Regions from separate parts of the Homo sapiens genome. Here regions 2, 3 and 4 are each linked to region 1. The links come from fine-mapping of genetic effects on gene expression. A gene starts in region 1. Each other region holds a variant in brackets. All regions are shown on one strand. Distances are between the middles of the regions.

Region 1 (5,000 bases):
ACCTCCAGGAGACTCTTGTTTTTTGAACCAAACTTTCAGGAATATCTCCACTCCTGTTCAGCGGTTCATTTAGGACTTGGGCGGCTACCTGAGTAAGACTATCTTGGACTAGCGGGATAGGGGGAACTCCCTCCTGGTTCTGTAACCGGCGGACTGCTTGTGGGGAAATCTTCCCATCTTCATCTGCGCTGACATTATTCAAGCAGGGAATCCCTCTCTTGCCTGCATGCTGAGGGGAGGCTGGAGGCAGGCGGAGAGGGCCCGCAGGAGATAGAAAAAACTGGAGGCGCCCACCGATACCCTCTCTCCTGGAGCCCGGGGCGCGCACCAACTCTTAGGCTAACCCCTCGGCCTCCCGCCTCTCTCTTCCCAACTTCCACTCCAGCCCAGTGAAAAACCTGTGACTTTAGATGCAATCGGTACTATTAATAAATAGCACCTAGGAGGGCACCGAGACCGGCACACAGCTGGAAGCTAGCCTCTGTCCCAGAGAAAGCAGTGCGGTATGGGCCTAGCGGGGCCGACTTCTGTGCACAGGCCGGGAAGCAATAAAGGTTCGGAACTGCTCCAGACCCGGAGGACCCCGCCGGGCACTCTGGATAACCTCCCCACTCCACTTCCAGGGTCCGAAAACACGGGACGTCTGCGACTGGCCGGTGTCCAGCACGCGCACTAGGACCGCCCCCGGCGCCCACCTCTAGTCTCCCGCATACCCGGCGGGCTTCGGGACGCCTACAAATCGGTTCCAGGTAATCGCGCGCGTTCCTCCGGCAGCACATCGCCAGGCCGCGGGCGAAGGGCTCCCACCTCCTGGCTCGGCCAACTCTGGCAGCTTGTTCTGCACACATGACGTAACCCGGCATTAGATCAAACTTTCTGGCACCTTGAACCCACTGGGGTGGGTGGAGGGATGGAGAAGATGGGAGAATCCTCTCCACTGCCAGGCGCGCCGGGCCCAGACTGACTCAGGGGCCGAATGATTTCCTCGCAGTTGAAGAGGAAAATAAAAACCTAAAGCTTCCGCTTCCCAGCCCCCCTCACTTCCCCCAGCCCGTGCGCTCTCTCTGCGCGCACCGGGAAAAGAGAAGGGAAAATTAAAATTAAAAAAAAAAAAAAAAAAAAAAAAACTTTGGGGGATGTTTGGCGGGTTCTCTCCGCAGTCCCTGCGGACCCACGCTCCAGGAAGGAGCTCCCGGCTGCGCACACTGGGGGCTCCCCGCGCCGGGAACCGGATGCCAGCCAGATGCCGGGGCTGGGAAGCAGAGAAGTCCCTACTCCCCGGCTCCCGCCCTTTTCCGAGTCTCCCGGCGCCCCGCAGAAGCAGTTGGTCTAGGCAGCCCCGGGGACTCCCAGGGGTACCTGGCCTTTCCGCGGCGGCTTAACAAAGAGGGGCGCGACGCGAGCGCTTCCCGCCGACGCCTCAAGCCATCAGCGCCCGGGCGACGCAGGCTCCGAGGGTGCGCGCCGCCAGCGGTTGGTGCGCGCCGATCCCCGCCGCCGCTCCTTCCGCAGGGCCCCGAGGCCCGGGTAGCCCTGGCTCTCCGCCTGTTATCGGCTTACCTGGGGTTGCTGCTGTTCCAGTAGACAGCGTAGCGGTCGGCGACGGCCTTGGAGCCCGGGTCCTGGCTGAACACACACATCCAGAGCACCAGAAACACCAGCGTCAACATCTCCACGTGCAACATCACGCCTGGCCAGCGGCGGAGCCCCCGACGCGCCACTCCGGGGAGAGAGCGGGGATCCGGAGGGAGGGAGGCAGGCAAAGGGACAGAGAGAGAGCGGGCGCCAAATAAATATGAATAAATAAAAATGAAAGTGGGCGAGAAAGGAAAGAGGCGCCCACCAAGCTGGGGAGGGGTAGGAGAGCGAGAAGAAAAGAAGGCGGTGGGATGGGGGGTGATAAAGACAAACTCGCACCCCCACTGGAGGGTTCAGGAGGAAAAAGGAATCACAAGATGGAGAGAAGCGTGCGTGTGTGTGGTGGCGGCGGCGAGGGCGGGGGAAGAGGTGCCAAGCTGTGTCTCGGGCGGCGGCGGCAGGCCGGTCACCCCGGGAGAGGGAGGTGCGCGCCGGGCCGGGCGGCTGCAGCGCGGGTCGGGGCAGGCGGCGGCGCGCGCTGCACAGTCACCGGGAGTTGCGCGCCGCAGCCGCGGGGAGACATACACCGGCCCGCCGGGCCCGGCTCAGCGTCGGCGCAGCAGGCTACGCACGGCTCCGCCACCGCCCGGGGCCCTCGCACTGCGCCACGCTTCGCTCCAAGTTACTTTGGCGGCCGGTGGGAAACTGCAGGAGAAGGGCGACGTGCTGATAGAGGGCTTCGCGCTTGTGGTCCCGGGAGTCTGAGAACCCCTTTCCTCAGCCTCCTCTGTGCCTTAGCGGGGCGACCCCCAGAAATCTCAGAGGAGTCGTAAGTGCTGCGGTACCGGGCGGTGCGCCGAGAAGGGTGGGGATCCGGAGCCGCAACCCAGCCTTGTCGGTGTCCTGGAACTGGTTAAGCGGCAGCTGCGCCGGCTTTCGAAGCGGTCTTGCCTCGAAAACCTCAAAGAAAAGTTTGGCTCTTCGCGTCTTCCGGCAGGTCCCCCAGCAGAGTCGGAACGCGGCGGTAGCGGAAGAGGGCACCCCGGGGGCTGGCCGAGCCTCGGGGATTTCTCGCGCGTGCTTTCCTTGGCTGGGTGTGGGTGCACCACAGTGAATGAAGAGCAGAGGTTAAGACCAGCCGGCCTGGCAGAGCTGGGATTCCTAAACCTGCAAGACGACGCCAACCCAACTGTTCGGCTGGAGAGCGGGAGGGGAAACAATCACTTTCAAATGGATCCCTCCAACTCCTGGATGGGCCGATGTCAGTCTCCGATCGCCTTCCGAGAGGGAGACTGAGCCCCCACACGCGGTGCCAAGAGCCCGGGGTGAGCTCTCAGAAGTGTCCCTGCGACTCCAGCGGGTCCAAGCCTAGCAACTTGTAGAGATGCATCAATCAGTTTGAAATGGGAAAAGAGGAAAAAAAAAAAGCGCACGAGCGAGTGGCACCTCCCCGATGACTACATCAGAAAACCTTCCCGATCCTCCCGCAGCTGCTCCTCTTTCCCTCCTTAGGCACAGCAGCAACAGAGGTGAAAACCACAAACCGAATCCTAAAACCCCTACCCAGGCGGGAAAATAAATAAACTTGAGTGCAGCAGCAGCAGCACGAGCAGCCCAGGAGGAATTGAAACGACTGGCAAGAAGTGGAAAGGGTTTTGTAAAAGTCAGTTTTGCAAAAGAGGGGGAAAAAAAGAGAGCGAGAGAAAAAATGCTTTATGGGAAAAAAAATCTCCTCGGGCACGCCCCCTCGTTAATGACTTGCGTGGAAAGCCGACAGCGGCGGCGACCCAGTGGCAGCAGCCTCAGCAGAGCGCGAGGCCGCACGCGTGAACGTGGACGTGGGCGGGGGGATGGGGCTCCGCCCGGGCGTGTTGCGCGGGACGCGGGACGGGCGGGCGGCGCGAGCGCGGGTGTGAGCTCCGGACGAAGCAGGGGGAGGTGCCGCCAGCCCGCGCCCAGCCAGCGCTGCTGCCGCTGCGGCCCGGGTCATGTGGACTGTCTTTTTTTTTTTTTTTTTTTTTTTCCTCCTTCCAAGCAGTTTACTTGGGAAGGGTGGGAGCGCGGTGGGGGGATAGCTGGAGCAACCAGTCAGGGAACGGCCTACTGTTTGCTTACAGATTGGGGGTTTTTCCTCTCTCTTTACTCCAACCGGATTGGTTTGCTCCACGAGAAAGAGGCGTTTTCCTAATCTCCCTTCCCCACGCCTCCTACCCCCTCCCCCGCCCCACCTTCTAGAAACCTGACTAATTGAATTACTGGGAGTGCCGAGGCGCCCTCTCCTGCGCCGGAGCCCGGCAGCCACGTGTAACCCTTTGGGTGCTGAATTCCGTCTGGGCTAAGGAATGATTTGACATCTTTTTACCTGGGAGTAGGGTCTTTCGATTTTAAAGGAACCTGTGCCCACCCTTTGGCTGGAGAGCCGGCATCTGTCTCTGGTGCCCCGCAGGTGACGGATGGGCTGGAACGGAGCCTCAGGGAGTGCGCGTTCCTGTCCATTCCACCCGCTCTCCACGCCGCACGCTGCCTGGCGCTGGGTTATCTGGAAGTCTGAGCACCCCTCCTGTGCCTTTCAGCCCTCCTCTTCCCACTTGGGATTTAAAGATTCTTGGGCAGGAAGCAAGTTTTCTTTAAAGTGATGCTCTGAAAACACGTTTTTAAAAATCAGGCAAATCACAGTTTAAAGTGATTACAATTCAGCGCGAACCTTCCACAGAGAGGAAATGAATGCGGCAGACGAGCCCTTCAGAAATAACCTCACACCTCTTCCATTTCAACCTTGAGGGTGATTTGCTGCCCACTCCCCAAAGAATAAACGCCTTTATCGAACCCGGTGCGGAAAGAAATGAGGGCCGGGGGCGGGGGCTGTGGGAAGAAAAGCAGTTCCTTTATTGTTGGAAAAGGCCCCTCGGTCCTGGACTTCAAGGGCAGGTTGCAAGCCTGGTCTTCAGCCGCCACTGAAGAGCGATCTCCTGGCAGCGAGACTGTCCCAGCGCCTCGGGACGCGTCCCCACTGTCGTCCAGCGCCCAGGAAGTGAGCCCGACGCCTGCTCTGCGGGGCCACAGGCCCCCGAGACCCGCCCTTAAGGGGTCCGCGGGCTCGGGAGCAGCGGTATTTTTTCTCATGTTCCCTAGGGAGTTTTCTGCCTTAGTGGGAAGGGCAGATCCCCAGGAGAAAAAAGGCAGTTTACTTTTGCTCCCACACCTGCCTGCACTCCTTTTTACTTATTAGCCCAATAAAATCAAATCTCACGTTCACCCTCCTGCGCTTTCCAGTCCTCAGACGGGATTTCCAGGCGCTTCAGAGCTGTTTAGAAGCGTCCAGACGCCCTCCAGTGGTGGGCCTGCAATCCGCACCCAGCAGGGGCATTGCCTGCCGCTCAGGCCGGGTTGAATTTGATGGGAAATCTAGGGCTATGACCAAT
Region 2 (8,482 bases), 160 kb before region 1:
TATTCTGGTTTTAATTACCTAGGAGCAAACTTCAGGTTTCAAAGTTGCATTTGGACAAAGTGCTATTCCTATAAATTTATTTATAGGATGGCTTCGCTCTTGAGTTAATCAGAATTTGTGTCACTTACATAACAATGGTGACTAGCGTGACATGTTAGTAGTCTCTAATGCAATTTTGCTAAAAATTTTCTTATAACCCATTAATACATAAGAGCAGATGTCTTTAGATACCCTTTTACAGACTCTTTAAGATGACTATTTGTTCTTTTCATCTGAAAGAACCAACACAAAAGAGCAAAAGTGAGTGTCAACTCTTTTTCTTTTCCTTTTTTTTTTTTGTTTTCTGAGGTGGAGTCTCACCCTGTCGCCCAGGCTGCAGTGCAATGGTGCGATCTCAGCTCACTGCAACCTCTGCCTCCAGGATTCAAGCGATTCTCCTCCCTCAGCCTCCCGAGTAGCTGGGATTACAAGCATGTGCCACCATGCTTGGCTAATTTTTTTTTTTTTTTTTTTGTATTTTTAGTGGAGACGGAGTTTCACCATGTTGGCCAAGCTGGTCTTGAACTCCTGACCTCGTGATCCGCCCGCCTTGGCCTCCCAAAGTGCTGGGGTTACAGGCATGAGCCACCACACCCGGCCTGAGTGTCAACTCTTTTTACACCCCTTAAAAATATACTCATATACAGATGAATGGTTATAAATGATTTAAAAACGTAGATGAGGAACACTGGAATACGGCCTTCACGAGGGCAGAAATTTTTGCCTATTACATTCATTAGTATATTTCTAGAACCCAGAAGAGTCCTTGATCCTAGCAGATGCTCAATAAATATCTGTGTATTGAATGGCACATAATGGACACTCAGAACATAAATGTTTAATGACTGAATAATTCATGGAAATGATTACGCCATTAGTTAATAACAATATGCTCCATGATCATCATTTCACTGTATGCTACTGTCAAAGGCATTTGAATCACAGCAACTCCATCTTGAATAAGGGCTATGTAAAATGAGGCTGAGAGCTACTAGGCTGCTTTCCCAGGAGGGTAAGAGATTCTTAGCCACAGGATGAGATAGGAGGTCAACACAAGGTACAGGTCATAAAGACCTTGCTGATAAAACAGCATGTGGTAAAGAAGCCAACCAAAATCCACGAAAACCAAGATGGCCATGAATGTAACCTCTGGTCATCCTCGCTGCTCATTATATGCTAATTACAACACATTAGCATGCTAAAAGACACTCCCACCAGTGCCATGACAGTTACAAATGCCATGGCAATGTCAGGAAGTTACCCTACATGGTCTGAAATGGGGAGTAACCTGCAGTTCCAGGAATTGTTCACCCTTTCCCAGAAAACTCATAAATAATCCACTCTCTGTTTAGCCTATAATCAAGAAATAACTGTAAGTATCCTTAGTCTAGCACCTCAAGCTGCTGCTCTGCCTATGGAGTAGCCATTCTTTTATTCCTTTACTTTCCTTTCACTTTACTCTAGGGACTTGCACCAAACTCCTTGCGAGATCCAAGAACCCTCTCTTGGGGTCTGGATCTGGACCCCTTTCTGGTAATACTACAATATGAATACTTTAAATGGTGGTTACCAGGAAGTCTTAAATGTTTATGACAAGTAGGTGCTTAGTACGTTTTCTTGAATATATGAGTAAAGAAATAAACTAGAAAGACTGGGTCACAATTTAGAAAATAAGTCATGAGGTGCTGAAGACCAGAACAGCCCAATCTTTTTTTATAAACCTCCTGGATGCAAGTTTTAACACAGTCTCAAAAAAGTTGTGATCAGTTTCTCCAAAGCTACACACTGAGACTAGGATGACAACGAGCTACCTACTCAGGATTTTGCAAGGACCAAAAATCTTTTCTTACTTTACAATACTCTCAAACAGAAACTATTTTAAACTACATGGTTAATTCAACCTTGTGGACTGGATGGTCATCAAAATGATTATATAATTATTTCAACATAGTTGCATTTCTTTCTTTTTCTTTGTGTGTGTGTGTGTGTGTGTGTGTGTGTGTGTGTGTGTGAGACGGAGAGTTTTGCTCTTGTTGCCCAGGCTGGAGTGCAATGGCACGATCTTGGCTCACTGCAACCTCTGCCTCCCAGGTTCAAGTGATTCTCCTGTCTCAGCCTCTCTAGCAGCTGGGATAACAGGCATGCGCCACCACGCCTGGCTAATTTTGTATTTTTAGTAGAGACAGGGTTTCACCATGTTGGTCAGGCTGGTCTCGAACTTCTGACCTCAGGTGATCAGCCCGCCTCGGCATCCCAAAGTGCTGGGATTACAAGAGTGAGCCACTGCTCCCGGCACCATAGTTGCATTTCTAAATATAAAATCCCCACGAAGTTTGAAAAGATGATGAGATCAGGGATATTTGAACACATTTTTAAAGTAAATGGATGTATGGAATATTATGATAGAATATAGTAGTAGTGGTAGTCAAGCATGAAACTGGTAGAGAAACAAAAATATACATGTAAAATAAACTCAGTATTTTAATAATAAAATAAATGGTATCCTAAAAAATACACTGATTTTGTAAATCTATATTTTGCTATTGTGACTTTCTATGAATATCCATTTATAAAGTGTTACATTCCAACCTGAAGCTTTTTTAAAAGTACAACAATCTTTTTAGTTTCAACTTTAATCTGTAAATTAAGTGCCCTAAATCATCTAATAGCATAGCTCTAAATTCATCCTTATCACCACTGCCTATTTAACATCAAAACTATCATAAAAAAAATAGTTCTTATCTATCAATGCATACATATATTACTTTTCTTAAAAAAAACCTGACTAATAATGTGGCACCATGAACATGTTATATGTAGACATGGTTTGTTCAAAGGGCTAAAAAACAATTATAGCCCTGCCTACTCACAATGCATTCCCCCAAATTTTCATTAGCTTACATCATAGTAAGACTTCACAAAATTTTCATCTGAAAAGACCTACTTTCCTTAAGATCTTGCTCACAAAACACCCAAAAGGTGCATTTTGAGAAAATGAAGAAAATGCCATGATGCTATCTGTGGCTCCTGCAACACTTGTTTTACTTCCTTTCGAAAGAAATAGAAAGTCAAAAGAGACTTCAAATGGTGGGCAGATGTAAATGGCATTTGCCTGAAAAGACATAAAGCAGCATTCAACAGGGAAGTCCCACCCCACTGAGTCTGTATAAGCGCTCACTCCATCTCTGTTGTAGTTGAAGACAGTGGCTGTCAATCAATCCTGGCTCAGTGGTTAAAGAACCCCACATAGGCTCCTCAGTAGGGTGTAAATGGCTGCAATCGCCTGGGTATAAGCAACTGATTTGCAAGCTGAGGGGCAAAACAAAACAAACAAAACAACAACAACAACAACAACAACAAAAAACACAAAAACCCCCACCTTGTTTCTTCCTCACACAACCTGAAATCAATACTCTAGCCTGTTTTTTTTTACCTTCTAGGAGGTTTACAGTTCTTGTAGGCCATCATTACAGAGAGTCACAGAAGGCACAAAACTGAAGCATGTCACCCAGGTTAAGAAGCTGAAGACTTTGTGCTGATTTCCAGTGATTATTGCCATTAAAATAGAGCAATGAGATAAAGTTTTGCCAGAGCCAAACACACACCATGGTGTTTTTGCAAAAGCATATACGAGAACTTAACTCCAAGATGACAGCTCCATCAAGCAGCAATCACCGAGAATGCTGTTCTGAATTCAAAGGCAACCCTGCTAACCACTCTTTCTGAGTAAATCACTTAACTTCTTTTATACCTCAGGTAGTTCATTGTGCACTACCTCACCATGGGTTGCTTACCAAGAAAACGTAATAAAAATAATTGGGGAGCTCTTTGAAGACATAAAATTGCTGTGGAGAGAATCAACTGTAAATTTAAGTCTGTGCTCCTTGGTGAAGAAGTCTCCAAGTGAGCTAGTCTTGATGAGGTCTCCTTTGATGATTTGGACTGTACTACTCTTAGTAGAAAGAGGCTCTGCCCCTTCCTGATGGGTACTTACGTACCCAGTGGCCAGGAGGAATGGACTCAGGGATGGGGCTAGGGGCCTCACCCACCAGGCATGAGAGGTAATTTGTGCTTCCCTGGCTGCCTTGGCACCATGCCTCTGTAGCTTTGTTTCAGGGATGACATGCTTCAGCTCAGGCTGCTGTGCTTAAGTCCTACTGTAGTCAGAGATTTGGGGCTGGGAAAAGAGGGGCAGCTTTGCCCCCTCCTGAGCCAAGAGGAGAGGGAGAGGGAGAGAGAGAGAGAGAGACTCTATCAAATAAAAGCCTGTTGGGATTTACAAGGAAACACTCGCTTGGGAGCTCAATTAATAATAAAATGTGATGAGCATGTTGATTCTGTGGGTTTTGTTTCCAAATCATTTGCTACCTGCCCCATTTCAGAGCATGTCAGGAATGGGTACTCTCCCACTGCAAAGATGGGGAAATGAGTCAAAGTGTCTCACTTGTGTAGCAAGTGGAAGCCAGATGTCAGAAGATGTATGCTGGGCAGATGTTAGAATTTTAAAACGAGAACTACCTGAATGGCCCCAGCAGAAAACATGGTATTCTAAAAATAGGACACCGACACCCCACCGAAATCAACTGTTCATTTATTTATTCTACATGACGGGTGCTGTGGGGCACCAGCTTCTTGCAAGCCTGCAAAACTGCTTGTGATTCATAAGATGTTTCTGAACAGAAAGAGGCTGGTGGTATCCGTCCATTAAAAACAGGCTCTTCACTGAGATACTGGGCTCTATGTTGTTTTTTCTTTAATTCCAAGAACTCAGAGGGAGGGACAGAAATGCTCAGTGGATAGCTATGGATGGATGAGCAGAGGGGAGAGGAAATAAGTGTGACATGTAAGCTGATCTGTGTGATACAGTAAGAGAGGAGGATGTTGCGAGGTAGGCCTGGGTCAGCGTCGCACAGGTGTTGGTGCTGGAATCTGTTTCCTGAAC[G/A]TCTGTGCTGAACACAAAAACAACCAGGACCACGGGGGTAGAAATAACAAGTCTCACATTGCTTTAACAAAAACAACAAAATAAAGCACTATTCCTGTTTTCTGCTGTTTCTGTCATGCTAAATGACATCCCTGTCCCCAGGTTTAGCTATGTATTTTGCCACCTCATAAAACCCCAATCAATCTTCCCTTCTCTTCTGGCACCAAGTTATGAAGCATCCCTGATCTTCCAGACCTAAAGAAAACAGCAGAGAGACGGGGCTCCTCATCAGGTAGAGGTTTTCTTTTTTGTCAGAATTTGAGACTAAATACAGATTGGAGTATTCACTTGGGAATTCAACAGAGATCCATCTTAAGGAACATTCCAAATACACAATCAGAAAGAAAGCATTTGTGTGCTTTTCTGCTCCTAGGAAAATGCAGAGAGAAAGAAAAGGTTACTGTTTCATGTGAACTGATTTCTCCCTTCTCTGTGGTAGGCAGAGAACACATCATCCCACCTGGAACGTGAGTCATTTGTGAAATGCTTGTTTTAAATTCAAACTTCTCCACAACCTGACGAGTGTGTGGGAGACCCAAGGAAGCTGACATACAAGGGCAGATTTATTTTTCTGCCAGAAGGAACCATCAACACAAAGGCCAATGGTAACCCTAAAAATGGAAATGTGCTAACCCTTTTTATTGTCAAGCAAATAAAAAAATTATTCTTCAAAGGAGGAGAAACAAATGCTCAGACCCTCCAATGGCTTCCTGTCTCATTCAGAGTAAAAGCCCAAGTCTCTACAAGGATTCTATGAGGTCCTACGTGACCTGCCTCCCGTCTCCTCTTTCCTTACTTCACTGACTTAATCTCCTACCTCTCCTTATGATATAGGAGTTAAGAAGAAATTAGGCAGATAGCAAGGGCATGGGAGTCCTTGATAAGGCTTTTCTTTTTAATGAAAAACAGAAAAACAGCCCCAAATCATTTTCTAACAAAGAGCTGCCTGCAAGCTAGGAGCTTGCATGGGTGAATGCCGGCAGGAACTAAGGACTAGACATGTGCAGGATGGCAGCTCCATCTTCCTTTCTCTGCCAGCCACGTGTACTGTCAAGGAGCAGACAAGATGGTCCCAATCAACTAGAAAGTCCACTTGCACTGTAACCTCCGCCTTCTGGGTTCAAGTGATTCTCCTGCCTCAGCCTCCCAAGTAGCTGGGATTACAGGCGACTGAGCCACCACACCTGGCTAATTTTTGTATTTTTTAGTAGAGATGGGGTTCCACCATGTTGGCCAGGCTGGTCTCAACTCCTGACGTCAAGTGATCCGCCTGCCTCAGCCTCCCAAAGTGCTGGGAATACAGATGTGAGCCCCCATGCCCAGCATCAAGACATGGTTTTTATTTTTTATTTTATTATTATTATTATTATTATTATTATTATTATTGAGATGGAGTCTTGCTGTGTTGCCAGGCTAGAGTGCAGTGGCACAATCTCGGCTCAATGCAACCTCCGCCTGCTGGGTTCAAACGATTCTCCTGCCTCAGCCTCCCTAGTAGCTGGGACTACAGGCATGCGCCACCACACCAGGCTAATTTTGTGTTTTTCGTAGAGACAGGGTTTCTCCATGTTGGTCAGGCTGGTCTCGAACTCTCAAACTCAGGTGACCTGCCTGCCTTGGCCTCCCAAAGTGCTGGGATTACAGGAATGAGCCACTGCACCCAGCAGACATGGCTTTTAAAGTGCTCTGTTTTATCTACTTAAGGCCTGGACTCCACAAATCAAATCAATGTGTTATAATACAGAACTCTGGGTACTTCCTAATCTTATAACCTCTTCCTACTCATGCTCACGCCCCAAAGGCTATCTATCTATGAGATATGTTGTACACAGGAGAATCCAAGCCCAAGAAACTAAAAATCATCCCAAAGCAGTTTAAAAATGAACAGGGTTTATTTTACTGTAGAGCTTGTTACATCATCCATTTGTTGAATTACCATTTATGTTGGGTTACTTATCCTTACAATTCAAATGACCTACAGCCCTAGACACTAGAATTTTATTTCATTTTTGAGACACAGTCTCACACTGTCGCCCACGCTGAAGCGCAGTGGTATAATCATGGCTCACTGCAGCCTCAAGTAACCGGGCTCAAGTGATCCTCCTGCCTCAGCCTCCTAAGTAGCTAGGACCAAAAATGGGCACCACAATGCCTGGCTAGTTTTGTGTGTGTGTGTGTGTGTGTGTGTGTGTGTGTGTGTTAATTTTTGGACAGACGAGTTTACACTATGTTGCCTAGGCTGGTGGCAAACCCTGGCCTTAAGCAATCCTCTCGCCTCGGCCTCCCAAAGTGCTGGGATTATAGGCCTGAGCCACCATGCCTGGTTGAGTTTTATTTTTTTTAAGCAGCCACGATATACAGGAATCAAGAGAATTTAATCCTCAAAAGTAAAAAAGAAAAACCTCTATGAAAGGAAATGACTTGGGCTTGTGTCTATGTAGTGCCCAAAACAACCTGTTGGTCTGCTAATCTGTTAATCAAACAACTGTTTTAACTATATTATGAGAAATAACCACTTCAAGTTATTTTTGTTTTTATAGAATTGACAACTCCTGTTCCTCCCAAACTGCTTCTTTGATACACTACACATATGGCCGTAAAAGAAAGAATGCTTTAAATACCATGAAGCCCACATCTAAGTACTTAATTATCTGGGAAGCTTATGATGATGGTGATGATGTTTTCCCTCAATGGTAAATCTAAACCATGTGTGACAGCTGCAAACCACAGCATTTATTTAGTAAAGCCAGGGCTCCTTGCTCCTCTGTAGGCTTAGGAAACATTTCAGTGATGTCTGAAAAATAATAAAATATGTTACATAAAAGTCCAATATCTAGAACCTCAAAAATATTATATTCAGTGAAAGAAGTCAGACATAAAAGAACACATATTGTATGATTCCATTTGTACAAAATGTCCCAAAAAGGCAAGTATATAGAGACAGAAAATAGATGACAGGCTATCTAGGGCTGGGGGTAGGCACAGGGGATGACTATAAATGGGTATCAACCTTTCTAGAATACACACGTCATAAAATTATATCGTGATGACTGGATGGCTCTGTAAATACACTAAAATTCATTGATTGTACATTTACACCTCATGAATTTTATGGTATGTAAATTACATCTCAATAACACTGTTACTAAAAAAAAAAAAAGATGGAAAAAAGTCCAGTATTTATAAAAGCTTACAGGTTATAGGGTGCAGGGAGGAGAAACTAGAAGACAATGATGCTATCTCACAGTATTCATCATGCAAATTATGGTTTCTGTTCTTTTCTCCACTCCTATACAATCATGGTGACTCAGGAGAGGGTTACAGGTGTGTTGAAGCACAGTGATAAAAGTACTGAACTCCGGGCCAGACTGCCTAGGTCGGCCACCTACTGCTCTGTGACTTCAGGACAAATCACTCGGTGCTTCTTGTACTTTAGTTTCCTCATCTGTAAACACTAGTAAT
Region 3 (8,482 bases), 180 kb before region 1:
AAAAAGAAAAAGAAAAAAAGGTAGGAAATACAAATTAAGAAATTTCAGAGAAAAATGAAAAAACAAAGCAGATTTTTTTAAAAAAAGAAAAAAGGTAGGAAATACAAATCTAAGAGGAGGGTTTGAATTCCTAATCCTGTTCTTTTTCCTTGCACTTCTATTCAAATCCCTTTTCTGCATCTCAACTTTTGTCTGCACTAGATGGTCCAATTCTAGCCAGACTTCAACTTGTAGCAGTCCCAAGGTAGAAATGACTAGAAAAAAGAAAGTTCCCTCTTAGCTATGAAGAATGAAAAACATTAAAATGCAAATTCAATGTAAAAAAGAAAGCAAGACTATACACACATTTCACAGTAGCAAATTCTCAGGCAGAAGTGGAAGCCAGCAAGTAACCCCCTGAGGTGTGCTAGTGTAACTGTTTCAAGTTTTGGGGATGACAGATAAACAGCAAGTCCTATTACTACTGAATGAATCTCTCTCTCTCTCTCTTTTTTTCTCTGGGAAGAAAATGTTTGTGATAGAATTGGTCCTTGAGAAAGAGTGAATTGATCTGTTAGCTTTCTGTGCTGGACCAGAAATAATTATTGCCATACCTACTTCCTATGGATTATGTTCAAAAGTTAGAGATACTCACTTATTCTGTCTTTATGCTATGGGGAACTAATCGGAACTGGGGTTTGCTTCACTGACTCTCACTTATTTTAAAAGTCAGGCTTAGTAGGAAAGAAAAAGTCAAAGAGATTGACCAAGAAAGGATGAAATGTTCGGTCTAGGTAAACAAACACTGTCTCAGATAAAGTTCTCCACGGGTCTCGACCTCACCTTCTACTGCGTATGAATTCATTTTACAATGTTCGTTTTTTTTAAGCTAGATCTTTGTGTGCTTATTTTCAACAGGGGATGACAATTGATTTGTTTTCTATTGAACCTCGCCAACTGGATACTGAAGCGAGCACGGCATATTTAGATGCCCTTAAACTTTCAGGTTCACCTTTAAAACGTGCCAAGACAATGTCATGTTGAGGGTAAATGTGCAATTTTCACTAGGCTGAGACGAGAAATGAGTGTCTCGCAGGTGAAATGACATTAAAGGCGTTACAGTAAAACAGAGACCAATCCTTATTGATTCATTTTAACTCAAATAAAATTCCAATAATTTGATGGACATGAAATAGCAAACAAAGGAAAAAACAAATCAGATGATTCCTGAGTGTGTGTGAAAGAGCACCCAGGCCCTGCTAGAAAAAAGCCACACTGCCAAATTCAACCCTATGTATATTCACAGGCACTTATTTAGCCTACCGGCTTCTCCTTCAGGAGTAGGACTGGTAAGGAACTTTAAAAGCTAAAAGATATGGAAGATACAACCTAATCAGGTTCAGGTAGCTAGAGAAACAAGACACACCCATAAGAAAGAACTTATGATGATAATTCTAAAAAAAAATGCATAACTACATAGTGGAGAGTGGTTCGGGTAACTTATGGAAATCCTGAGGCTATAAAAGATAAAAGAAAGACATCAGTTTATAGAGTTCACCCATATCTAACTTTCTTCTCCTTCTGGGCGTATGAGAGTATTATACCTCTCTACTACCTTAGAGTTAGGCAGAGTTGTGGGCGGAAGGAACATGAGTCACTTTTGGGCTGAAGCAAGACTCTTCAGTGTTCTCTTATGTGGTGGTTTGTGTTGAGATGACAAAACCACAAGACTGAAGAGGCCTCTATCATTGAGTCACACACAGATAATAGTTACCTGCCTTAATAAACTCTGTCAAACCCCTGAGATCCTGGGGCTGTTTGTTACTGCAGCACAATATATTCTGTCCTGACAAATATAGATACCAAGGCAGGGAGGAGCTAGAGAAAGTTACTATGAAAAGAATTTTAGGGTCTCCTCAGTGTATTTATACTTTAGTTTCCTTCCCCCTTTGGCTGACCTGTCTGCCTCCAATATCTCTCAAATACTCCACATTGCTGCTAGAGCATTCTAAGACCTACATCTGTTCACATCTCTGTTTGAACTTCAAATGGAATCGCCTGGCACAAAAGATAAAGAACAACTTCCTTAGCATAGGGTCAAGGCCCATGGTATCTGGCTCTGTTTCCCAATGTTATTTTTGCCCACTAGTTCCCATCCTGTATTCCTGCCGTCAGCACTCTGATTGAGCCACATTCTGCTCTGCCTCCATGAACTGGGACACACTGCTGTGCCTGTAATGGCCCCCACTCCCTCTTCCCCCCGGGTGAACACCTAACCAACTTCTGGCAGGATTCACTTCCTCTGTGAGGCCTTCAGCTCCTCTCTCCTCCCTCAGCACTTTGTGCATTCTGTTACAAAACACTGTTCCTTAAAAACTTTGTTTAATCCCCTTCCAATGGATAGTGAGTTGCTCAAGGCAGTGAGTGATTCACTTTTGTTTCCCCCAGAGCATCTAGCACAGTATCTGACAAGCAGTTAGTATTTGCAGAAATAATGAATGAATAAAGGAAAGAAGGAATATCTGCATGGCTGTGTCCATGAGAGTATTAGGCAGATGACAGGGGCAGAGTAGAGGTTTGTTGGATAGAAGTAAAATGTAAATGTAAGCAGCCAGCAGGTGTCAAATTACAAAGAATGAGAATTTTTCACTTGATCCAAAAGGTAATAGGGAATCATGATAACTTCATGAGCAGCAAAATGATAATTTTGTTCAGCCCTGTAGCACCTTGTGCCTTGAATGTCAGCTATGTTTATGCCAATCTTATTCCCCCTTGGACTGTAAAGCTCCTTGAAAACAGGGTTTGTGTCCTAATCATATTTGTATCCCCTATAGCAACAAGCACAGTGTTTGTATAACAGGTGCCAACAAATATTTGCTGAATTTAATTTTACAAAGATTACTCCCTATGCGATGAGGCTGGATAGACCAGCTAGCAGACTACTGTATTATATCCAACATTACATGGGAAATGGACTTAAAGGGGAGTATTGCCTATGGAAATGTGAAAATAGAAATCTAAGATGGTCTAATATTCCAGTCAGCAGCCTTTAGGGTCTCTAATATCAATTAATGTTTTGAGCCTGGGGTCCCAGAAAAATGGTGGTCTATTTAAAACACAAATGTTGAGAGGAAGATTTGCTTTTCTCAGGGAGTACATGAGTCCCATGTGGGAGATAACAAAAGAAAATATACTAGAGCTAAAAGCAGCTAGAAATACTAACCGCTGTATACAAATGTTATCTTATCCCCCATCTTGCGGCTTAGTTCAATTTTTTTATTGATTGATTGATTCATTCACTCACTCATTGGTTTTATTTTTGTAAATTTCTTACATTGTATAAAGTAATGTTTCTGAAGTTTATTCAAGTCTATTTAGATTATTGTCTGTTTCACATTAATCCCCAAAGTCAAAGACGGTGAGTGAAGTAAAGAAATGATGTGCTAGACTCTTCTGCTTTGGGTTTCCCAGATATCTCTAGTTATTCTCTATCAGAAAGGGTTTGCAGGGGCTTCCTCTTGTTGAAGTACCCTTTTTAAAACTCCAGCTGTCAGCAGGGAATCCTACAAGCATCAAATTATTTTACAAATCCCAAGTTTAAAAGAGCACTCCATTCAGAAGCTATACCTGGTTTTATTATGACTCACTTCTTAAGAAGACACACACACACAACTAGTGAGCCCTTAAAAGAAACATTAAGACCGAAAAACAAAAAAACTCTTTTTTTTTCCAAGACAGCGTCTTGCTCTGTCGCCCAGGCTACAGTGCAATGGCACGATCTCAAATCACTGCAACCTCTGCCTCCTGGGTTGAAGCGAGTCTCCC[G/A]CCTCAGCCTCCCAAGTAGCTGGGATTACAGGCGAGTGCCACGACGCCTGGCTAATTTTTTGTATTTTTTAGTAGAGATGGGTTTTCACCTGTTGGGCAGGCTGGTCTTGAACTCCTGACCTCACGATCCGCCTGCCTTCACCTCCCAAAGTGCTAGGATTACAGGCATGAGCCACTGCGCCCGGCCACAAAAAAACCTCTTTTAAGATACTGTCCAAAGCCTGTACCTGAGGGATTCAGTGTTATACCTCCCAAAATAAAATATGGATTTAAAATTCAAGGTATATATAATAGGTTATCAATAAGTTAACTATTACCATCATTACAATATTTCATTTAATCTATTGCAAACTCATGTATTGGACCAGACAAAATTTGTTTGTTTATTTAGATGGAGTCTTGCTCTGTCACCCAGGCTGGAATGCAGTAGGGCAATCTTGGCTCACTGCAACCGCCGCCTTCCAGGTTCAAGCATTTCTCCTGCCCCAGCCTCTCTAGTAGCTGGGATTACAGGCACGTGCCACCATGTCTGGCTAATTATTGTATTTTTAGTAGAGACAGGGTTTTACCAAGACCAGGCTGGTCTCAAAATCCTGACCTCAGGTGATCTGCCTGCCCTGGCCTCCCAAAGTGCTGGGATTACAGGCATGAACCACCGTGCCCGTCCTGGACCAGATAAAATTTAAACCAAACTTAACAGATTAAAATTTTCTGTGGGTTAATGTTAAAATCATACCTAAAAAAGTTTTAGTCCAATGTGAACCTAAGTTCACATTCTAAAAGGTACCTGGAACCTCAGGTGCCTTCACTGGACCCTAAAGCTTCCAAGCATTTTGTGATTGATTTGACCCCACCTACCCCCCCCACCAAGATCTAACACTAATGTTTCATTCCTGCAACTGAACATTATCAGTTTTTCATATCATTTATTTGTGGCAAAATGAGAAAACATATCCATAGCAAGGACTATGTACAGGAAAGTTCTCTGAGTGGCCTTGCACTGACTCAGTTATGCTCTTTCTTGCTTGTAGCTCTCAAGAATAACTGTACCAGTGTGCTAGGAATGCAACATCCTGAGATAAGAGGGGACCTGGCTGAAACAGCTGGACTTAGTTCCAATGTCCCCAGAACAGGATGTCCTTCAACACTTTAGCCCAGAAGATCTCATGACTCAGGGTATAAAACCCAGGGTGGGTGGATCTCCAGGGTCCCTCAGCTGGGGTACAAGTGGGGCATGCAGGGACAAGATTCCATCTTTCCTTGGCAGCTTGCTTGAACCATGGGGGACCAGCTAGCTAGCAATTAATTCTAGGATTATGTTATTCCTTGATGCCTATCTATAGATAATAAACCCGCTTTGTATAACTTGTGTGCTTGGGTGTTCTGTCTCACTAGACTCAGAGAAGTTGGTAACCAGTGCATAGTGAACTTGCTTCACACTATGTCATTTATTTGTTTATTTATTTATGTATTTTAGTGACCTGATCTTCCTATGGTGCCCAGGTTAGACTCCAACTCCCTAGCTCATGGGATCCTCCTGCCTCCACCTCCCAAGTAGCTGAGACTACAGGTGCACGTTACCATGCCCAGCTATTGCTTTTAACACATCCCACCCATGCTTTCAGTTAAACAATTATTCTATCTCCCTGAATTGCGTGACATTTTCCAAAAAAAGAATCATCAAATGAATCCTTTCAAAAGAAATCAAGCATCTCTTGCATCCTCACCCTGCAGCATTAAGATGCAGGCCTGCCAGCGAGGGGGTGAAATCTTCACCCTCACCTTTCAGGGAAGTGCAGGGTAGGCTACCACCTGCACTGCAAAGTTTATCCAACATGAGAGTTCCTTTGGCAGGGAACATTAACCGCTGACTTATGCTTGTCACTGCATAGGTAAAGGACACTGATACAGGTAAAGAAGTCTGCATGTGCACTGTCATGACCAATGCCTTACAGCGGCTACTCAGATTCCTCTTTACTTACTGTGTCACCATCCAGTGGGGAAAAGCACCTCAGTATTAATCCTAGTTACACATACTCTAACAGGACATGATCTTAACCATTAGGGCAGTATTAATTAAGGTATCTTGCAGAGATCCTGCTCATTATATATTTAAAAACAAGATGAGGTTTCATTAACTCTTTTACTTTCAATCATCTTCAAACTCAGCTCCTAGAAAGCAAACTGGGTTCCATACTTGCTTAAGGCTTAAGAACACATTTTACATTTATTCTCATTCAAGCCACATTGTGATATGAAGTGATTTATGAATTAGAGAGCACATGTGTTATCAGAATTCCGTAATAAAATGTTCAGAGACTCTTGGCTTTGTCACCATTAGGGACAGGACATAGGCTTGCTTTTCCATGGTCTGGCCAAACGGCCTCCAACGACAGGACAAGTCCCCACCTCCAGGCATATTAAAAATTATAACATGGTATATACTTCAGGCAGCAGAACTCTTAATTCTAGCATTTTCTCAAGGCAATACAGACGGCCCCTCCCTCCCTCCTTCCTCCCTTCCTTCCATGGAGTTCCGCTCTTGTTGCCCAGGCTGAAGTGCAATGGCGTGATCTCAGCTCACCACAACCTCTGCCTCCCGGGTTCAAGTGATTCTCCTGCCTCAGCATCCTGAGTAGCTGGGATTACAGGTGTCCACCACCATGCCTGGCTACTTTTTGTATTTTTAGTAGAGACGGGTTTCACCATGTTGGCCAAGCTGGTCCGGAACTCCTAACCTCAGGTGATCCACCTGCCTTGGCCTCCCAAAGTGCTGGGATTACAGGCATGAGCCACCGCACCCAGACTGTTCTTTCTTTTTTCTTGGTGACTGGAATAAGGGAAGTCTGCAATTTTTATGACTTTATATGTGTATCCACAAAATCTATGTGCAAAGATTGCCTCTTCAGAGGGGAACTGAATAGTTGGAAAATAGGAGTGGGAAGAAGACATGTTTTTCACTGTATACCCTTTTATAGCTTTTAAGTTTTGTATCAGGTATATGTATTATACATTCAAATACTAAAAATTAAATTAATTAATTTTTTGAGACAGAGTCTCACCCTGTCGCCCAGGCTAGAGTGTGCAGTGGTGCAATCTCGGCTCACTGCAACCTCCGCCTCCAGGGATCAAGCGATTCTCATGCTTCAGCCTCCCGAGTAGCTGGGATTACAGGTGCGCGCCACTATGCCAGGCTAATTTTTGTATTTTTATTCGAGACAGGGTTTCGCCATATTGGCCAGGCTGGTCTCAAACTCTTGGCCTCAAGTAATCTGCTCACCTCTGCCTCCCAAAGTGCTGGAATTACAGGTATGAGCCACCACCCCTGGCCTAAAAATGTAATTTTAAAAGTACAAATAAAAGCAAAACAACTACAAACTTTCCTAAACCATGTTTAAAAAAAATTATTCAGTCTTATAAAGTTACAAAAACTTTTTAAAAATCTAACCTTTAAAAAAAATATTCAAAATACATTTTGGAAAAAATGCTTCAAAGATTTTATATCTAAAACACTGCACCTGGACACTGTTAAGAAACAGTTATATGTCATCCTTTTATTATGATAACTATTCAGCTAGAAAGATCATTACCTACTTTGACATTATAAAAGTTAGTGAATTTAAAAAATAGATAATGTGTTTTTAAAGGAAAGCATGTTATTTTTCCCTCTAAGGTATGCTTGACAAAAGTTCAGCATTTCAAGTAAATACACATTATTTCATTTATCAGTTGTGATCATCTCATTCTCTTCAGTATGACTTAAGAAGCTTCAGGAATGTGTTTATTCTCACCTCAGTCACTCTCACAGGCAAGACTCCCATTAGAGAAAGAAGCCACCAGACGCCACCAGAACCTTAACAAAATTAAGGATACCTTAGGGCTCTCAATTTCACTCTGAAAGAAAATCATCCTTGGCCGAGCACGGTGGATCATGCCTGTAATCCCAGCACCTTCGGAGGCCGAGGCGGGCGGATCATCTGAGGTCAGGAGTTTGAGACCAGCTTGGCCAACATGGTGAAACCTCGTCTCTACTAAAAATACAAAAATTAGCAGAGTGTGGTGGCGGGCACCTGTAATCCCAACTATTCAGGAGGCTGAGGTAGGAGGATCGCTTGAACCGGGAGGCGGAGGTTGCAGTGAGCAGAGATCACGCCACTGCACTCCAGCCTGGGGACAGAGACTCCATCTCAAAAAAAAAAAAAAATACATCTTTAAGATCTATTCTTGTAAGATTTTTTTTCAACAGGAAAGCTAAAAAAATGCTTAAAAATATATACATTATTTTAGATTTGAAGCCACCACCTAGAGAAAAGGAGATATATCCTATTTGTTACATAATGTCTCTCCAGAATAATTACTTTTATTTGTTCACTTTCTAGAGCAAACACCATAGTTGTTTTTTGTTTTTTGTTTTTTTTTTATCTTTTACAACCAAATATTTTCTACTAAATAGGAGATAAAGACCAATAAAACCTTTGTTCTCTCTCCCTTCAGCCAACCCCTAAGGCATATTTTATCTCTAGAGTTGTTATCTGAAGTGAATTACTGATTAAAAAAAAAAGTTAAAGGACCCAGACTGCTGAATGTGTGCGGTAACTGCAGTGTTTTCCACACCTTGTTTCTCTTTAGCTAGGCCCTACCAATAGTCACTGTTCCTACCAGCCTGCTTTTGCAGAAA
Region 4 (8,482 bases), 200 kb before region 1:
AGAAAAACCCATCTACTAAGTTCTGATGATTTCTTTCTTGATATCCTTCTCAGATCTCTCAGAACCCATTTTAATACCGCAGGCTCATGCAATACTATTGTCACTCATGCAATTAGTATAATTACCTTCTAGCTGGTCTCACTTGTCTCCTTATCGCCTCCCAATTCATCAGGCTTTCCCAGGTTAGGAACCCCAGTGACTCCCTATTCTGTAAAATCAATTCTAATTTGTGCTTGGTCCTTCGCACTCCCCATATTTTGGTAGCATGGAACCTATCCAGCCTCAATTCCCAGGACTCTTCTGTAACCTGGTCTTCTCACCTGCTGTGCAAACTCCTACCTTCAGGCCTCTGTTGATTCCCCCTTTTTGCCTCCAATTCCCTCACTCCTCCACTGGGCTTTCTTCAGTGGTTAAGTTCTGTTAAGCTTTCATTACCTTCATAGCCCACCAAGATCTCTTCCCTTTCTGAGACTGCACAGGACTGAGGATATTATTACACTTAATGTGTGCAGTTACAGAGATTATTTTTTCTAAATCTGAGACATGGTCCCAGTAACATTTTATATTCCTTGGCATTGATAAGGATCATGTCACTATCTTGTCTTTATCCTTCATTTTGGGGCACATGGTCTACAAATTCATGCTAGTCAGTTGATGATAGAAACATTAATCCTCCAACTGAATAATGTAGCCTGGATAACCGATAATGAACTACTTCTACTAATAGGTGAATCCACTTGTAAATTATGGGTAGGGCAAGGCCATGTTGCTTAGTGATGGCTGGACCATGGATTGTGATTATTTACAACAGCTGAAAAGATGTATTTGGTGATCCATCCACATGTGAATGGTAACTAATGAAAAAAGAATTTAAACATCAAAGAATACAGTATTCTCCTTCATAGCTTGGTGTTGTAGCTATAGGGGATAATAAAGACAGTGATATTACATATGTAGTAGTTCTTACATGTAGTTGAAGATTTATCTATTGTTTCTTTTAACATTTAATAAGTTATATCCATGTCCATACGTTTTAGAAATAACTGCTATATTGTTTCAAAGAGTGCAAATAGCCTTAAGTCTGCAGTGATATACACAAGTTCTGAAAAGCTATAGATATTCACAGAAAACACATGCACAAAGCCATACACACAAAATATAAAGTTTGATTGAATAATTTATTATTCCAGAAAAACAAGAGTAAATGTGGATATTAAAGGAAATAAAGACAAATCCATTCTCTACAATGCTTGGGGGCTAATTTAACCTACAGTAATTAGACATCTAGCAGATCTCACAACTAGTCAAACCAGTACTTCCAAACACTTGTTTTATTACATGTTTTGTCACTAGGTTACGATGGCGTCATCAAATATTTTTATCGTAAGCGTCTATACTTGCAGTGACTCAAGACCGTGTTTCTCTCAGCTACTGCAAATAATAATGTTAATAGTATTAGTGATGATAAAAATTGTAACACTTTGGATGTTAAAAACACTAGAAGTTGTTAGTAAAGGTCTCTGGAGATTTCTACTCAGAATTTAAATGAGAACTTGAGATAATTCTTACACTCCTGGCTGCAAATTAGCAACCATCACTCCACAGCTTTCATATTAAAACTATGGGTACTTGAAGACTTTAGTCATTAATAAACTTTGCCCAAAGGACATTAGCAAAAGGCATGCTTCAGGTGATGGGATAGTGCCTCCCAGGACAGTGGGACTTGTCAGACTGTGCAACAGGATCCCATGGACCTGTCTCAATCAAGTTAATTAGAGACATCTGCAGCACAGAGATCAAGCCAAGCCAGCTCTGGCAGCTTATTTGCACCAAAAAGGTACAACTCATGTGGGAGGTAAGAGAGCTAGAATGACAAACAGATAGAGATCAGTAACGTGAGCTGGCTCAGTCATCTGAGTGTACTCACTGTTGAAATAAAGCTGGTAGGACCAAGGGATGCAAATGTCGAGCTGATGAAAAGGCTGAAGGATATTTGAACAAACCTTTGATATTCTTAGCCCCTGCAGGCATCTCAACACTGTAAATGGAGCCCCCAGTCTCCCTCCCCCCAGCACCTGCTTGAACTCTTCATTCACCTATACCTTACCTCCTGGGGTTGCTCTCACTCATTCCAGGGACCCCAGCCACCGTTTTTCTGCAAACAACTCTGCCCTCTTCCAAGATGTTGTTACTGATGGAGATCTGATGTTGGAAGTTGTAGCCTTTGTACTGCTGACATTGGTTGAAACTTTGCCTCTGAAACTTACACTCTATTCGACCCAAATCTTGACTCTAAAAAGCCACATCATTCCCCATTGCTTCCAGGTCTGATTTTTTTTTTTTTTTTTTCAGTCTGAGTCTACTCATCTTAGTGGAGTTTGGGTCTTTAAATATTTCTTTTATTCATTCTCCTTGTTGATATCATTCTTGAATTCCCTAAACATGATAGCAGCCAGCTTCTAATGAATTCCACTTATTCTACTTTTCATATACACACCAAGAAGAGCCAGGTGTCTGCTCACTGGGGAGGCAAATAGAACTATGCCCAAAGTCAGAATGTGACTACAACAGATTTAATTCTCAAAGCAGAAGGAATCTGAAAATACAGGTAGCCTAACACTCTACAATTTGGTGTGGAACAGATGCCAAACCATGACACATTCTTCCAGCTCTAGAACGTGTTATGATCCGATATTCTAATTCATTAACAATCGGATTTTCACTTGAATTTTTTTTTTTTTTTTTGAGACAGAGTTTCGCTCTTGTTGCCCAAGCTGGAGTGCAAATGGTGTGATCTCGGCTCACTGCAACCTCTGCCTCCCGGGTTCAAGTGATTCTCCTGCCTCAGCCTTCTGAATAGCTGGGATTACAGGCATGTGCCACCACGCCCAGCGAATTTTTGCATTTTTAGTAGAGATGGGGTTCCACCATGTTATCAAGGATGGTCTTGATCTCCTGACCTCGTGATCCGCCTTTCTCGGCCTCCCAAAGTGCTGGGATTACAGGCATGAGCCACCATGCCTGGCCTCATTTGACTTTAACATCCACATAGCAAATACATGACTATCATGCTTTTGACACAGATCTCCATAAAAGACAGATTGTAAACTGATGGCCTGTGAATCAATTTCGGCCCTGTACACTTGAGTTTAGCCAGTACAATGTTTCAGAGTCATCTGAACCAATATTTAGAAACCCAGAGATTTCAAATAAAGTACATGTTTCTACCTTCTCTTGAAAACTTGGATGATCAGATGCCACTGGCTCCACATTCTTCTTACACAGAAATATTCTGCTGGAGTGGATGACACCCAGTTTGTACACCAGGTCTGATTTTCTCACTTAGGTACCTGCCGGCTGCATTAGCCATGAAAGTTTGCATCCCTTGCCAAAGCACCCACGCCTTTGTCACTTTTCAGTATACCAAGTAATCAATAATATTTTACAGATTGTTTTCCATTTTAAGAAATGGTCATCAGCACTGAACAGCCACAATGGAGTTTTCAAGGATTTCAAACAGTCTGAGTTCAAATCTAGTATGTAAAAATTTCCCAGAGGATCAGAAACCCTTGTTGAGTTTTCCTCCAGGCATGACTAATACAATACAGGGAGGTGCTGTCATGCAACCATGCATCTTTGCATTACGAACGAGGAATGGTTTAATTGCAATTCACCCACCTATAGCATCCTGGGATGGCTTTATCCTGTTGAAGGGCGTATCTTTAGGCCACTAACTTTGTTAAAATATGTCAGGCCTGTTGGTATCAAATATTGGCTAA[C/T]ACAGGAAACACCACCTCAATCTTGTTAAATATTTTTAGCAAGAGGCCACCATGTTCCAGAATGATGCTGGCTGACCTGCCAGAGGCAAGAAGAAGCCCCGAAGATCTAAGACAACATAAATGAATGACTAATTAAGGGCCATTCTAAGGGAAAGGACAATTATGTTGACTCATAACTGTCTAGGTTCCTACCATTCAAGGCCTATACAATTTACATAAAAATCATTGTCATTAGAAAAGTTTCTGTCCCACTGTTAAGACAGTGTTTGTGCAATGTGAGGTTACTTCCTGCTTCCACAATATGACTGTGCTTTACTAAACAAACTTCTGAGCTAAGATGTTTACTTGACTGGGAAATGACTACTAATAAGCTGTTAAAGGATGTATCCTCAAGTTACTACTTGTGGCATTTGTAACACGCTCCCTGTTGAACAAAGGTGTCACAGTAGCACAGTGAATAAACAATCCTTTTTTCTCCCTGTAAGTTATACGATATTAAATGTTAATAATTAATTTGTCTTTGTGGATTAACATACAAGAGCTTTTCAAACAGGTACTGGTGCAACCCCACCCTTGTGAGATGGCTAATCATTTCACATACTTCACACTTACCCAGCTATCAGTATCACTGACCTCAGCTAGCAAAGTGTGAAACGGCAGATGGTTTGTAGTGTTCAGTAATGTCCTATGAAAATGTAGCACAGAAAACTGCAAAAGGTTTTGGGAGAGAATGGTGGTTTATATGAACTTTTCAAGAAACTCAAGAGAAACAAAATGCCACCACTGTCCACGTCAAAGGATCTGGTGAGGATCCTGGGAGAAAAATGTCAAGAGATTCTAAGGCTTTCAGTAGCACAATATTTTCAAAGTGCTTCAGAAGTTATTTCAATCTGCTGCATTGCTAAAGGGGAACAGAGCCTGAAAAGCCAGTATAATTTTGAAGGCTGTTCAAGGACTATGTCAGCAACATTCTTACCCTGCATAAGACTTATACATCTTAAGACAGAAGATTTGTCTAGGGTATCCACAATCTGATTACATATTTCTCACGAGAACTACCCCAAAGTGCAAGCCCTTTGTGTTGTTCTACCTGAGATGACATGACTTCAGCCTCAAAATACCCAGGCTGAACTGTTTCTGGAGCAATGAGATGTTGTTAATGAATATCAACACTTCCCAGATCCTTTAAAAATGCTAATATCAAAATATTTTACAAGAGTGAATTTCAAACTGTGTTCATGTTTTTCACAGCACGGCACCTGTTTGAAATGGTACAGTTTGAACATCTATAAAACATGAGATGGAAGATACCAAGGTGGCTTGAGAGTTTTTAAACTATATATATATTTTTTTTTTTTGAGACAGAGTCTTGCTCTTGTTGCTCAGGCTGGAGTGTAATGGCGCGATCTCGGCTCACTGCAACCTCCGCCTCCCAAGTTCAAGCAATTCTCCTGCCTCAGCCTCCCGAGTAGCTGGGGTTACAGGCACCTGCCACCACGCCCAGCTAATTTTTTGTGTTTTTAGTAGAGATTCGGTTTCACAATGTTGGCCAGGCTGGTCTTGAACTCCTGACCTCAGGTGATCCACCCACCTCAGCCTCCCAAAGTGCTGGGATTACAGGAGTGAGCCACTGTGCCCAGTCAAGAACTATATTCTTGAGAGCAAAATAGAGTATATTATACTTAGAATGGAACTATGTAAACCTTTACACATCTGTATTTTCAAAACAAGAACCCAGAGCTGTTCAAGTGATAAACAAAATCATCAGGTGGCTTGTTTAGAGTTTCAAAACAGACCCTTCTATTCCTGCTGTTTCTCCCTCTGGTTTCATTAAATATAAAACAAATGAAAATGACCAGTTCAATAGGGATATCTGACAGAATTTGGGGAGAAACATTTCATTAGCTTTCTATGAAGTCCAATACCTGTAATTTTATGTATCAGGACTCTCTGATTTGAAGTCCCTACAGAAATGCTTTATTCTTAGTCCATTTAGCTGCCCTTAAAATGTTTATTTTTTCTCTTTCTCTCTCTCTCTCTCTCTCTCTCTCACAGGAACATCCAAACTGTGTTGTCACAGTGTATAAAACAGAGGCATATTCCTTTCAGGTTATACTATACCCTGACTCCTTGATGAAATGATTTGATGTGGTTCACAAATCAGAATCAGACAGAATGAAATCATTACACCTTATATAGCTTAAAAACAAAAAAGCCAGACATAAAGTGGACAGGAAATCAGTCATAATGAAAAACTATTTCAAGTCACACATTTGCTGATTTAGTGTCTATTTGCTGAGCATTTGTATCACTATGTGCTAGGTGCTGCTGGGTCTGTGACAATGAACAGGAAAGGCTGTGTGGCAACTCAACACGAAAGCCAGCTGAGCCTCCTAGTAACCAAAACAAAAAGAGAAACATCACACAGTTTCAAAAGGGAGGTTACTGGCTTATCAAGAGAGAAAAAAAATGTCTTGGTAAGAAGCTACGGAGAAACATAAGGAATAGGTCAATGTGTAGATAAGAGATACTAATCATAATATTAACATATAGATATTTATGTACCTATGTAAGACTTTCTCTTCCACTAAAACAGATGAAGTAATTTATAATCTTTTGAATTAAGCAATCAATAGAATAATATCTGCAGAAACTCTTATCTTTCTGGACTGTTTAAAGGTACAAATCTAGAACCAAAGTCGCATATGTGATTTAAAACAAGCAGAAAATACATATTGGCAAAGGGCTTTCTTACATGAGGTATTACTGCTCTAGAAAATTGTCTACATTAATTTATAACTGTAAAAGGATCTCTGGCAATTACATTTATCCTATTCTCTTATTTTTCAGGTGTCTTTTGGGGATACATGTTATAAATCTTTTTTATTTCTCTATATAACCCTTCTTTCTTTTGGGTAACCTGATAGTAATAACTAAGCCACAGGTGAAAGGTTTCTCAAGGTGTGGCTATTGTGTTCTCTTGACTAACTTCTACCTGCACTGTTTCCTTTTTACAGGGTGGCTCTTATGTGACTAATCTAGGCCACAATATATTATTTTTTTTAAGTTAGGTAAAAGTAAATGTCTCCAGACCTTTAACTATATAGTACTTTATTTGCTAAATTATGCAAATCAATATACCCTAAATCAAATACATACCTCCTCTAAAGAGAGTTCCCCTTGGTTTTGAAACTCACTTTAACAAGCTATCAATCAGAGGCTGATATTTAGAGGTAGCATAACTGATTGGTAGCAGTGGGATTTCTGGCCATTTTTAGTGATAACCACCGAAATACATGAGCAGGGTTTTTAAACCCTAGGAAGGAAAAAGCCTGACCAAAAACCCTGACAGATATATAATGCCATGATAGAAATGCTACTCATTATGTCATACCTAATAATCCACATGTACCTCATTACTCAGCTGTTTGTGTTACACCCTGTTGCCAAAGGAAGCTCCCTGCTTCTCCTCCTGATCCAGCAATTAATATGCATATCAGGCACAGTGGCCAGACTTCTACGGAGAAAGAGGAGGCAGGCAAGAGATCCATAGTCATAAAGACCTAGGCGAGTAATATTCTCAGCATTATTCAGGAATGTTTAGTTGCTTGCTCAAATTTATCATTAACAAAGGGCCTATTTCCCAAAGGCTTCCACTGTGTAATTAGCAACAACAAATACTGCCCCTACTCCGGTTAACCTATGGGATTAGTTACAAAGGTTTTGTAAATTTCAGAAGATATCTACACAGATGTCGGGAGAGCACACACGCAAACACACAGTGCAGCATAATGGATGCAGCCATAGCCATTAAGTAGTTTAGGATTTGTGAGACTCAGACAACGAATACATTTTATGGGGGAAGTCATAAAAGTCAGACAGGAAAAAATATACAGCATGAAAGTTGAAAACTTCTAGACAGCATGTAAAAAGTACGGAGAAGTAGCAGGGGCAAAGGAAGAAACGTACCAAGTGGAGCTCATTGGTCTTAATAAATAGGACAAGGTCACCTGAGTTTACTTCTGGAACCAATAGAAATCCTGTAGTATCTAATTATTTTTGTAAAATGATTATTTTCATGCTTCTATTTACCATTGTCATTAGATAGGTTCATATTTCATTAGTCTGCTTACTAAAATGAAACTTTTCGTTTTATTTATGGAAGTTTTTATACTTCTCTAAGCCTGCTCCAAAAACATACAATTAAGCACTGCTAACCTGTTGATCAGGAAAGTATACTATACCAAAAGAGATGCAAAGACATGTTAACCATTCATACTGATTGAAAGGGCTCAATTTAAGAAAGTAATTTTAATTTAGATTAAAAAATAATCTGTAAATGACAGAGTCTGGAATGACATTATGAATAAAAATTAAGGCTAATGACCTTATCTTAACCATAAATTACTTTAGTTTGTAGAGATTTGTTCACACTTGGTAAGCAGCACTGTTCATTTCTTATGATGGGTATTCGTGTTTAAACAAGTTGGCAATTTTCAATTCAGAAGTCAAAATACTGTCTTAGTTGCCAACAAAAATAATTAATGAAACACTTCTAACCCCAGGGGTAAATATGTAAGCAAGTGCATGGTAATGGATAATAAAAATAGCACTTCCTTTTACATATGGTGCTAATTAAAATCTGATCAGAGTAATAATTGAGCAGTGCCCAGGCTACCCTTGATTTTTCTTGTCAGGTTTCA

Direction of the effects. Alleles are on the strand shown, and positions count from the first base shown. SD is a standard deviation of normalised expression in the study named. Not every link is listed here.
For the expression in thyroid of the gene that starts at base 2,009 in region 1, A is the high allele of the variant in region 2 and G is the other (small effect, 0.23 SD a copy in GTEx).

The links.
Region 2: its variant is fine-mapped to the expression of EFNA5 in thyroid (GTEx, PIP above 0.99).
Region 3: its variant is fine-mapped to the expression of EFNA5 in whole blood (TOPMed, PIP above 0.99).
Region 4: its variant is fine-mapped to the expression of EFNA5 in blood mononuclear cells (TOPMed, PIP above 0.99). The same link has a PIP of 0.9 or more in whole blood.

Annotation. Positions count from the first base shown.
Region 1 is chr5:107,668,929-107,673,928 of GRCh38, forward strand. It overlaps EFNA5 (ephrin A5), which reads right to left and starts at 2,009. Exons shown (of 5, transcript NM_001962.3): 1 at 1,561-2,009. The coding sequence starts at 1,685. RefSeq lists enhancers at 1,162-1,241, 1,642-1,771, 2,482-2,621, 4,362-4,861, 4,763-4,812 and silencers at 1,402-1,471, 2,042-2,091, 3,452-3,521, 4,893-4,972.
Region 2 is chr5:107,508,992-107,517,473 of GRCh38, forward strand. The region is part of intron 1 of EFNA5 (ephrin A5); the gene reads right to left. Among named protein-coding and RNA genes, the nearest start is that of EFNA5, 160 kb to the right of the region's middle. RefSeq lists silencers at 3,097-3,391, 8,335-8,384 and enhancers at 3,097-3,391, 4,376-4,435. The variant G/A (reference allele first, on the strand shown) is at 4,982.
Region 3 is chr5:107,485,000-107,493,481 of GRCh38, forward strand. The region is part of intron 1 of EFNA5 (ephrin A5); the gene reads right to left. Among named protein-coding and RNA genes, the nearest start is that of EFNA5, 180 kb to the right of the region's middle. The variant G/A (reference allele first, on the strand shown) is at 3,805.
Region 4 is chr5:107,470,932-107,479,413 of GRCh38, forward strand. All of the region lies in intron 1 of EFNA5 (ephrin A5), which reads right to left. Among named protein-coding and RNA genes, the nearest start is that of EFNA5, 200 kb to the right of the region's middle. RefSeq lists enhancers at 1,582-2,336, 3,805-3,954. The variant C/T (reference allele first, on the strand shown) is at 3,780.